2 linked regions of the Homo sapiens genome follow. The protein of the gene in region 1 interacts with the protein of each later gene in a pairwise test. Each region holds a gene or a part of one and is shown in the gene's direction. Other genes may lie near its edges. The genes, in order: CBS and GAL.

The links.
Region 2: the proteins of CBS (region 1) and GAL interact in binary tests that used the Homo sapiens proteins (3 or more experiments, as listed by UniProt).

Annotation. Positions count from the first base shown.
Region 1 is NC_000021.9:43,052,661-43,059,094, reverse strand, and holds the end of CBS (cystathionine beta-synthase), read left to right. Parts: intron 1-126; coding exon 127-261; intron 262-687; exon of another isoform or gene 688-804; intron 805-841; coding exon 842-950; intron 951-2,207; coding exon 2,208-2,292; intron 2,293-2,995; coding exon of another isoform or gene 2,996-3,037; intron 3,038-5,111; coding exon 5,112-5,215; 3' UTR 5,216-5,904; downstream 5,905-6,434. UniProt on the Homo sapiens protein: Hydro-lyase catalyzing the first step of the transsulfuration pathway, where the hydroxyl group of L-serine is displaced by L-homocysteine in a beta-replacement reaction to form L-cystathionine, the precursor of L-cysteine.
Region 2 is NC_000011.10:68,687,350-68,691,770, forward strand, and holds the end of GAL (galanin peptides preproprotein), read left to right. Parts: intron 1-491; exon of another isoform or gene 492-654; intron 655-664; coding exon 665-751; intron 752-1,442; exon of another isoform or gene 1,443-1,499; coding exon 1,500-1,577; intron 1,578-3,567; coding exon 3,568-3,638; 3' UTR 3,639-3,826; downstream 3,827-4,421. UniProt on the Homo sapiens protein: Endocrine hormone of the central and peripheral nervous systems that binds and activates the G protein-coupled receptors GALR1, GALR2, and GALR3.

The DNA of each region.
Region 1 (6,434 bases):
TGCTGGCCCTGCCCAGTGTGACAGGCAGGAGAGCGGTCCCTGTGGCCTCCTGCTGAGGTGCTGCCGGCGGGGGTGCGAGAGCGTTTGTCCTTATCCTGATCCCCCCGACCTGCCCTCTTCCCTCAGGTGGTGGCACCTCCGTGTTCAGGAGCTGGGCCTGTCAGCCCCGCTGACCGTGCTCCCGACCATCACCTGTGGGCACACCATCGAGATCCTCCGGGAGAAGGGCTTCGACCAGGCGCCCGTGGTGGATGAGGCGGGGTCAGTCTCAGCCCCTGCTCAGAGCTCAGTCCTGGGTTCTGTCTGCCCAGCTCCACCCCGTCAGTGTCACTGGACAGGGCAGCCATGCAGACCCTGCAGCTGGGCTGATAGGCCCGCCTGGGCCGCCTCATACAGACGTTCAGGGCATTGGAGGCCCCTTGCCGGTCCCTGAGCAGCCTGGGGCAGGGCTGCCGTGCTCACTCCAGGCCCTCAGACCTCAGCCCACCCACCCTTTGTGTGCAGGCTGTCCTGGGCCCACCTGGAGGTCAGGGGAGAGATGCCCCGAGGACATGTCTGACAGCAGAAAGCCTTGGCACACATGCCCAGTGACCACTGAGAGCCCCACGTCGCGGAAACCTGACGGCTGGTCACCCTTGACCCTGGCTGAACGGGTCCAAGGACTCTTGGTTTCTTTCTCCCCACCAGGGCCCAGACTGGTTCCTGCCGCGTGTAGGCTCGTGGCAGAGGACTTCCATGTGTGGCCAGAGAGCGCTCCTCCCTGGGGCAGCTGAGCGTGTGCCCCACCGTCCTGGGAGGGGTGAGGTATGAGCGCTGACCCCTGCCTGCCCCCGTCCCACAGGGTAATCCTGGGAATGGTGACGCTTGGGAACATGCTCTCGTCCCTGCTTGCCGGGAAGGTGCAGCCGTCAGACCAAGTTGGCAAAGTCATCTACAAGCAGTTCAAACAGGTACCCAGTCACCTACAGGCAGCTCAAACAGATGCGCAGTCACCTACAGGCAGCTCAAACAGGTGCCCGGTCACCTACACGCAGCTCAAACAGGTGCGCGGTCACCTACAGGCAGCTCAAACAGGTGAGCGGTCACCTACAGGCAGCTCAAACAGGTACCCGGTCACCTACAGGCAGCTCAAACAGGTGCGCGGTCAGCTACAGGCAGCTCAAGCGGGTGCGCGGTCACCTACAGGCAGCTCAAACGGGTGCCCAGTCACCTACAGGCAGCTCAAACGGGTGCCCGGTCACCTACAGGCAGCTCAAACGGGTGCCCGGTCACCTACAGGCAGCTCAAACGGGTGCGCGGTCACCTACAGGCAGCTCAAACGGGTGCCCAGTCACCTACAGGCAGCTCAAACAGGTGCGCGGTCACCTACAGGCAGCTCAAACAGGTGCCCGGTCAGCTACAGGCAGCTCAAACAGGTGCGCGGTCACCTACACGCAGTTCAAACAGGTGCGCAGTCACCTACACGCGGCTCAAACAGGTACTCAGGCACTTCGGGACCCCAGAGGGTGCCAGAGTACTCCAGCCTCGAAGGCGGGACACCGCGCTTCCCGTGTGGGGGTGCTGGGTCCTCGACCCTCAACACCACTTAGGCCGAAGCTGGCTGCACCCCTCAAACCATGAAGCTGAGAAGCACCCACTTTACAAGTGCAGCAGCCGGAGAGCAGGCTCTCATCAGTGCAGGCTCATCCACACCAGCCGTGTTTTGGGGACTTAAGGAGGTCATTCGCGCTCAGAGGCTGTCCCGGGCACCATGCGGCGTCTGCCGGGGTCTTTCTCCTGCCCAGCCTCATTTGCCTGTGCATGCACTTGGTTATCCAACAAGAGCTAGAACATTCTGGGAGAAGCCCACGGTGGCTCCTTGCCGGGCTGGTCAGACTCCGTGGTTGTCCTGAGACACCCACCCTCTGCTGCCCTGAGGGTGGCCCAGGAAAGTTTGTGTGACCTTCCACACGGATCCCCTGGGACATGCAGGTGTGGCTCTTGACACTGGAAAGGCTGAGGGTTCTGCCCAAACCTAGGAGTGAATTCGACTTCTTTCCCATCTCACACACACACCCGAGACGTCACCCGAATCCACGTATTTCCCACGTTCGGCTGCCACTGCCTCCCGGGTGGGCTTTGCAGGACCCACCATCGCATCCCCTCTCACTCCACAGAAAACTCGTGGGGCCATGTTCCCCCTGCCACTGACCACGCTTCCCTTGCAGATCCGCCTCACGGACACGCTGGGCAGGCTCTCGCACATCCTGGAGATGGACCACTTCGCCCTGGTGGTGCACGAGCAGATCCAGTGTGAGTGGGGCCCTGCTCTGTGCGTGGGGTTCTCACTGGGGTCAGGCCACCAAGCCTGGCCTCTGCCATGGGCAGCAGCTGGGCCCCCCATCCCCTGCGGGGTGTTAGGGGAGTGGGTGGTGCCGACCTTCAGTGACACCCAGTCTTTATGCCTGGGCCTCCCACATGCCCTGGGCTGGTGGGCTGTACCTGTGATTCCTGCAGGGACCCCTCATCAGGCCACACTGGGTAGGGCCCTTTGTCCAGCATGCAGAGGCTCAGGAGTCCAGGCCCCTTGCCTCCGGGGAGGCCAGCAGTCTTGGGGATTCTCAGGGACAAGCCCAGAAACATCTAGAAGGGTTTCAAGTCCTGACCCTGGCATTCGGAGGGCTGCTCTGAATGGAAGCCTCATGTGGGTCTCACAGGAGCCACTGATGGGCTGTCCTCAGAGCCCCGCTCCCAGCAAGCTCATGAGGTTTTGCAACTCCTGAGCGCATCCCCGGGCGTCCCCACCACATCCCCACAGGCCAGGAGAGTCGCTCGCAGGTTTTGGGTCATAGATGGCAGCCCTGGGCCTGGGGCCCACAGGAAGAGTTGGGAGGGGCCCTGGAGCCTGGAGCCTGCCCACCCACCAGGCCTGTGTGCAGGGGGTGAGCGCTCGGTGGCTGAGGCTGGTCCGTGAGGGCCCCAAGTCTAACCCCATCTCCCGTCCTTGGCTCTGCAGCGCAGGACCAGGCCTGGGCAGGCGTGGTGGGGGGGCCTGCAGGTAGGTATCACCCACCCCTCAGAATGGCTCTCAGGCTCAGATTCACAGCCTCCCCATGGCAAATGGAGGCCTTCCAGGGTCCTGGACCCACCCCCAAGCTTGGGTAGGAGGGATCCCCCTCTTAATCTCACATTTACTTGTGTTTGAACATCTCAGAAAAAAAAAAAGATGCAAATTCCAATGTCAGGGTCCCCAAATCAAGTCTTCCTGGAGCATGTCCACGCTTGTCACCACCGTCTGTGGCTGCTTTCAAGCACGTCAGGGCTGCGTGCTCATAACAGAGACGGCACGGCCCCCAAGACCTAAAATACCACCAGCTGGCCCTTGTCGGAAAGTCCCCTGGCTGGCCCTAGTCCATTGACTCTGGGCCGAGCTGCCAGGGCCACAGAAGCCTGCGGCACTCAGGGCTCCCAGGGCTCCCTTCTCCAACAGTTGCTGTGCCTCCGTTTCCCCAAAATGCAAGGAGCTGATCTCATCTGTGTTCCCTATCTTTTCCTGGGGCTCTAAGTGGGCCACCCCAAGGGACCTCTGCCTACAAAGAGAGGAGTGACAGCCGTGGCGGAGTTGGGACGGGCTCCGAGGGCTCTTCCTCACCCGCACCTTGCTCACCCCTCTGTGCCTCATGACAGCTGGTGTAGGGTCCTGTGGAGACGCAGGACCAAGAGGATGTGTGGGGAGCGGGGAGAGAGAGGGAACGAGATCTGTGTTAAGGAACTGGATCATGAGATCACGGAGGCTGACAAACCCTGAGATCTGCAGGGTGAGGCGGCAGGCCGGAGACTGGAGAGCCAGCAGTTCAAGCCCCAAGGCAGGAAATTCCACCTTTGGTTCTATTCAGGCCTTCAACTGCTTGGGTGAGGCCCTCCACAGTAGCACACGTTATCTGCCTCTTGACTCTTGTGCTAATCCGGAATCCCCTCACACATGCCCAGAACGACGTGTGACCAATGCCTGGGCTCCCACGGCCCCGTTAATCTGTATTAAAATTAACCATCACAACAGCCCTGTCTGGGTATGTGGCATGGGAGCCTCGGCCAGCATTAACACCGGGTCTACGCTTGCCAGGAGAAAGCAGGAGGGGTGAAGACAGAATCAGGCCAGAGATGGAAGCTGTGTGCTGCCCATGGTGGCAAGGGGTTTTTGTCTGTTTTTAGAGACAGGGTCTTGCTCTGTTGCCGACTGGAGTGCAGTAGTGCCATCATAGCTCGCTGCAGCCTCGACCTGCTGTGCTCAACTGATCCTTCTGCCTCAGTCTCCCAAGTAGCTGGGACCACAAGCGTGTGCCACCATGCTCGACTAATTTATTTTTAAAAATATTCTGTAGAGACAGGGTCTCAATATGTTGCCCAGGCTGGTCCCAGACTTCCGGGCTTAAATGATCCTCCCACCTTGGCCTCCCACAGCGCTGGGATCACAGGTGTGAGCCACTGTGCCCGGCCCTGTAAGCGGGTTTGAATTTCATGCCCACACCGGCTCTGAAGTCATGAGTGCCTCAGGAGCTCAGCCGGTGGGCCAGGGAAGGGTGTGTCCTGACCTGCGGTGGGTGGAGCCTGGCCTGGGGCCCAGGGGACTCACGTGGTGGGTAGAACCTGGCCTGGGGGCTCATGGGGCTCATGTCAGAAGAACACTGGCTTGGCCAGGCACAGTGGCTCACGCCTGTAATCCCAGCACTTTGGGAGCCGAGGCAAGTGGATCACTTGAGGTCAGGAGTTCAAGGCCAGCCTGGCCAACATGGCAAAACCCCATCTCTACTAAAAATACAAAAATTAGCTGGGTGTGGTGATGTGCACCTGAAGTCCCAGATACTCGGGAGTCTGAGGCACGAGAATCACTTGAACCCAGGAGGTGGAGGTTGCAGTGAGCCAAGACTGCACCACTGCACTCCAGCCTAGGGGACAGAGTGAGGCCCTGTCTCAGAAAAAAAAAAAGGAACACAGCCTTCGCCGCTGGGCTCCAGCCACCCTGGGCCCCCATGGTGCACAGGTGCCCCAGGCCCTCAGGAGCCTCCTGCCCCGCAGCAGCCCACCCAGCCTCCCACGGCACCTGCAAACCCACTGCCTCGTTCTCCCCTCAGACCACAGCACCGGGAAGTCCAGTCAGCGGCAGATGGTGTTCGGGGTGGTCACCGCCATTGACTTGCTGAACTTCGTGGCCGCCCAGGAGCGGGACCAGAAGTGAAGTCCGGAGCGCTGGGCGGTGCGGAGCGGGCCCGCCACCCTTGCCCACTTCTCCTTCGCTTTCCTGAGCCCTAAACACACGCGTGATTGGTAACTGCCTGGCCTGGCACCGTTATCCCTGCACACGGCACAGAGCATCCGTCTCCCCTCGTTAACACATGGCTTCCTAAATGGCCCTGTTTACGGCCTATGAGATGAAATATGTGATTTTCTCTAATGTAACTTCCTCTTAGGATGTTTCACCAAGGAAATATTGAGAGAGAAGTCGGCCAGGTAGGATGAACACAGGCAATGACTGCGCAGAGTGGATTAAAGGCAAAAGAGAGAAGAGTCCAGGAAGGGGCGGGGAGAAGCCTGGGTGGCTCAGCATCCTCCACGGGCTGCGCCGTCTGCTCGGGGCTGAGCTGGCGGGAGCAGTTTGCGTGTTTGGGTTTTTTAATTGAGATGAAATTCAAATAACCTAAAAATCAATCACTTGAAAGTGAACAATCAGCGGCATTTAGTACATCCAGAAAGTTGTGTAGGCACCACCTCTGTCACGTTCTGGAACATTCTGTCATCACCCCGTGAAGCAATCATTTCCCCTCCCGTCTTCCTCCTCCCCTGGCAACTGCTGATCGACTTTGTGTCTCTGTTGTCTAAAATAGGTTTTCCCTGTTCTGGACATTTCATATAAATGGAATCACACAATTGTGGCCTCGTGTCTAACTTATTTCACTTTGCATGGTATTTTCAGGCATGTCAGAGCACGTGTACTTGGTTTCTTTTTGTGGCCGAATAATAAGCCATTGTGTGGATAGACCACATTTTGGTTCCTCATTTATCGGTGATGGACACCTGGTTGTTTCTGCTTTTCAGCCCTTGTGAGTAACCTGCTGTGCACCTTCATGGCCGAGTATGTCTGGACACCTCTTTTCACTTTTCTTGGGTGTGTACCCAGGAGTGGCATTGCTGGTTAATGTGGTAACTCCATGTTTAATTTTTTTTTTTTTTTTTTTTTGAGATGGAGTCTTGCTCTGTTGCCAGGCTGGAGTACAATGGCACAATCTCGGCTCACTGCAACCTCCACCTCCTGGGTTCAAGCGATTCTCCTGCCTCAGCCTCCCGAGTAGCCAGGATTACAAGTGTGCACCACTGTGCCTGGCTAATTTTTGTATTTTTGTAGAGACAGGGTTTTACCATGTTGGCCAGGCTGGTCTTGAACTCCTGACCTCAGGTGA
Region 2 (4,421 bases), on another chromosome or scaffold:
CTTCCCTGGAATTCTGGGATCTCTGTGCTTGCAATCACAGTTCCTCCATTTTCGCACCACGAAACACACCCACACACACACGGGAACGCACACACGCTCCTGCACCCCCCACCCCCATCCTGTCTCCCTCTGTGACCCTCTCGCTCCCTCTGTCTCTCTCCTTCTCTCTCTCTGGCTCCAGTCCATCTTGCACACAGCTGCCAGAGTGAAAATAAAAATCAGATTCAGTCACAACTTAAACTCTTCAGCGTCCCCCATGCTTTCAGGGACATGAGGACCCAGCTCCTGTTGTCTGCCAGGGAGTCACCCAGTTTGATGCCAGCTCAGTGCCAGCTCAGATGCCAGCTCCTCTGGACCCAGGCGCAACCCCTGCAACAGGGCAGGTTCTGGGCCTCTCCCCCACTTCAGGAGCCACACCTCCCTTTCTCCCACCCACCCTGTGCAAACCCTCACATTCCCTTTGACCCTGGTGTGAGCGGCCAAGCTCTTACCTCAGCTGGGTGGAGAATCGCTCCCTCTGCTCTGGTGTCTGTCCCTGGGCTCTATTTCACAGTCGAGTTGCGTGTGTGTGTTGGCTACAGGCAGCCCTGTGTCCTTCTTTGGGTGTGGGGAGGGCGTGCATGACAGTCACACCCAGAGGCTTTCCTCTCTGATCTGCAAACAGATGCCGTTGGCAACCACAGGTCATTCAGCGACAAGAATGGCCTCACCAGCAAGCGGGAGCTGCGGCCCGAAGATGACATGAAACCAGGTGAGAGGACTCCTATCCCGGGCCCCGGGGCACCTCACTTCCACCAGCTCCCAGGTGCATGCAGGGGACAGCTGTGGGTGTCGGGGCTGTCCACAGCTGCAGCCCAAGCCTGGCCATGACTTGACTAAGACGATGTGGCCTCGCCACACCTGTCAGCAGCTGCAAACAGAACGTGCAAACCCGAGACAGCAAGGGGTCCTTCTAGGCTGGGAGGCTGCCCAGGCACCAGGGCCTCCAGAAGAGCGGGACTGGGCACGATGGCTCCTGCCTGTAATCCCAGCACTCTGGGAGGCTGATGCGGGTGGATCACCTGAGGTCTGGAGTTCAAGACCAGCCTGGCCAACATGGCAAAACCCTGTCTCTACCAAAAATATAAAAATTAGCCAGGCGTGGTGGTGGGTGCCTGTCATCCCAGCTACTTGGGAGGCAGAGGCTCGAGAATCACTTGAACCTGGGAGGCGGAGGTTGCAGTGAGCCAAGATCATGACACTGCATTCCAGCCTAGGCAACAGAGTGAGACTCCATCTCAATTAAAAAGAAGAAGAAGAAGAAAAGCGAGGCCTCGAACTGGATATCTCCCCAACTCCCTCACATTGAACAAGGGCCTTGGAAAGCACAGCAGGGCCTCAGGCTGCTGGGATCAGATCATTGACCTTGCAGCGCCCAGCTCCTCTGTAGGGAGGGGGATGACCTGAGACACTGAAGCACCCTCTGCACAAGTCGTGAATGTTGATCTTTTCTCTTCTAGGAAGCTTTGACAGGTCCATACCTGAAAACAATATCATGCGCACAATCATTGAGTTTCTGTCTTTCTTGCATCTCAAAGGTATGTGAAATATCATCAACTTAACATTCATCTCTTAGTACACTGGAAACGTAAAAGGCCCATCGAGAAGAGAACCCATAGAATCCCCCTGGGAAGTAGCCGATTACTTATCTACGTACAAAGTCCTGTTTGGCTGTGTGTCGGGATAACAGAGAATGTAACACTAGAGCTAGCTCCAGAGGGCTGGGATTGCGGCAGGGGCATTCTACCGTCGTGGAGGGCCATCGGGCCAGCGCTGGTCCCAGGAAGAGAGTGGGCCTCAGGGTGCAGCTCATTCTACTGGAACCATATCTATTCACACGGTGACAACTGCTGTACCTTTTAGGGCAGAGGTATACTACAGGCCAAGTTCTTTGTGAACCGTCCTAAACCTTTTCTCTTTTCTTTTTTCTCTGTCTTTTCTTTCTCTTCTCTCTTTTCTTTCTTTCTTCTTTCTCTTCCTTCCTTCCTTTTTCTTCCTCCCTCTTTCTCTCTCTCTTTCTTCCTTCCTTCCTTCATCTCACTCTGTCGCCCAGGCTCGAATGTAGTGGTGCAATCTCAGCTCACTGCAGCCTCTGCCTCCTGGGCTCAAGTGATTCTCGTGCCTCTTCTTCCCAGGTAGCTGGGAAAACAGGTGCGCACAATTATGCCTGGCTAATTTTTGTATTTTTAGTAGAGGCTGGGGTTCATCATGTTGGCCAGGCTCATCTTGAACTCCTGGCCTCAAGTGACCTGTCTGCCTCAGTCTCCCAAAGTGCTGGGATTACAGGCGTGAGCCACTGTGCCTGGCCCTAAACCATATTTTCTAAGCATGGGAAATTAATAGAAGCCCATATCTTAGACTGCAGTGTTTCTCTATGCAGCCTTCCTGCCAGGCAGGCTGCCTTGAAATCTAACTGGAAAGGCTCTGATCCTGGCTTCCAGTGTCTTCTGCAAACACTGGGGATGAGGAGACCTCCGCACACTACGCTTGGCATTCATTCTACGATGGGCATCTGGCCTTGATCAGATAACCACACAGGTCCTACTGCAGCAGTGGAGGGAGCCGGAAAGCGGCCCCGGTGCTCTGAGGGTTAACAGGGAGGTGGTGGTGGGGAGGAGGGATGGACCGCTTTGCCTCTCCAGCAGAGAAGACCTTCACCTGGTGCTCTGAGAGTTAAGGGGGAGGCAGTGGTGGGGAGGAGGGATAGACCGCTTTGCCTCTCCAGCAGAGAAGACCTTCACCTGGTGCTCTGAGAGTTAAGGGGGAGGTGGTGGAGGGGAGGAGGGATGGACCACTTAGCCTCTCCAGTGGAGAAGACCTTCACCTGCTGCTCTGAGAGTTAACAGGGAGCTGGTGGTGGGGAGGAGGGATGGACCGTTAGCCTCTCCAGTGGAGACCTTCAGTTGCACATCACAGTTTTGTCCAGTTTTGAAAAATCAAGGCTAATCCTTGGGTTCATTTTGGATCAGGATGTTTTTCATTTGCAGTGTTATCGGGCTGCACTTTAGGTGGCGATGGGGAGAGGGAAGAGGAGTGAGGGGAGGGGAGCGGGGGAAGGAGACTGCCAGAGAAGGTCTTGGAAAAGGCGGTGTTCATTAGAAATCTCAAAACCGAGTCACCAAGTTCCCTCTGTTGGAGCCCAGTGGAGCCTCTGGGAGAAAAGCTGGGGTGACTTTTCCTACAAGGGGCAGAGGGACTCTGCTAGATTTTTGTTTTTCATTTGTTTTTAATTTTGTAACATGGAAACTCTTTCCTTAGGATATACCAGCTCTCATTACTCAGCTAGGAATTATACCTCTTTAAAGCCTGAATTTAAAAGTCTGACAGTTTTAAATGCTTACTAACTGTGGGAGTTAAATCATTACGAAGTGAGGAATACAGAGTGTTGTCCCTGATTCTGGGTTTAATCTGGTAAGAATCTTTACAGAGGACGACCACACGCCGCTTCCTGTAGCATGTGTCGTGGTTGTAATTCTCTCATGTGCATATTAAGAAGTTGCTGCTCAGATGTGGCTCTTCCCTTTGCAGAGGCCGGTGCCCTCGACCGCCTCCTGGATCTCCCCGCCGCAGCCTCCTCAGAAGACATCGAGCGGTCCTGAGAGCCTCCTGGGCATGTTTGTCTGTGTGCTGTAACCTGAAGTCAAACCTTAAGATAATGGATAATCTTCGGCCAATTTATGCAGAGTCAGCCATTCCTGTTCTCTTTGCCTTGATGTTGTGTTGTTATCATTTAAGATTTTTTTTTTTTGGTAATTATTTTGAGTGGCAAAATAAAGAATAGCAATTACTTGCAATTGTCTTTTTCTTCCACACCTCTGTCTCATCACCAGCGCCACCCATGGGTTTTAAAAGATAAAGCTTGATCATAATCGTGGATTAGACATGAATTTTAAACCCAAATTCTACCGTCAAGAGCATCTGAGACACCACCTGTTATTGCATGTCCAGGGGACATAAATTTATCTCCATATTAAGCTGAGTCAAATGTAATTATGAAGGTAAGTCTGTTACTGAGATGAACAAAAACACAAAACAGACAAAACCCCTGCCCTCGTGGAGCTGATATTTTAGGGAGATGGGAATGAAAAAGACTACAACAACCTTAAACAGATGGGTGAGTTGCGTGGTACTCATGGAGGTGGTCAGTGCTGAGAACAGACGTGTTGGCCAGGTGGGAGGGCCAGGAGCAAGGCAGGAGAGGAGAGATGGGCGGGCAGGTAGAAAGGCAAGGGCAGGAGGTGTGTGCAGGGATGGTGCTGTGTGAAGGAAGGCCTGTGGGAATATCTCTTAACGTGACAGAGACTGAGTCTTTTGAGCAGAGATAAAAAGATCATCCCAGAAGTTTCGAAAAGAAGGCAGGCGACCTGTCGCGGTGGCTCATG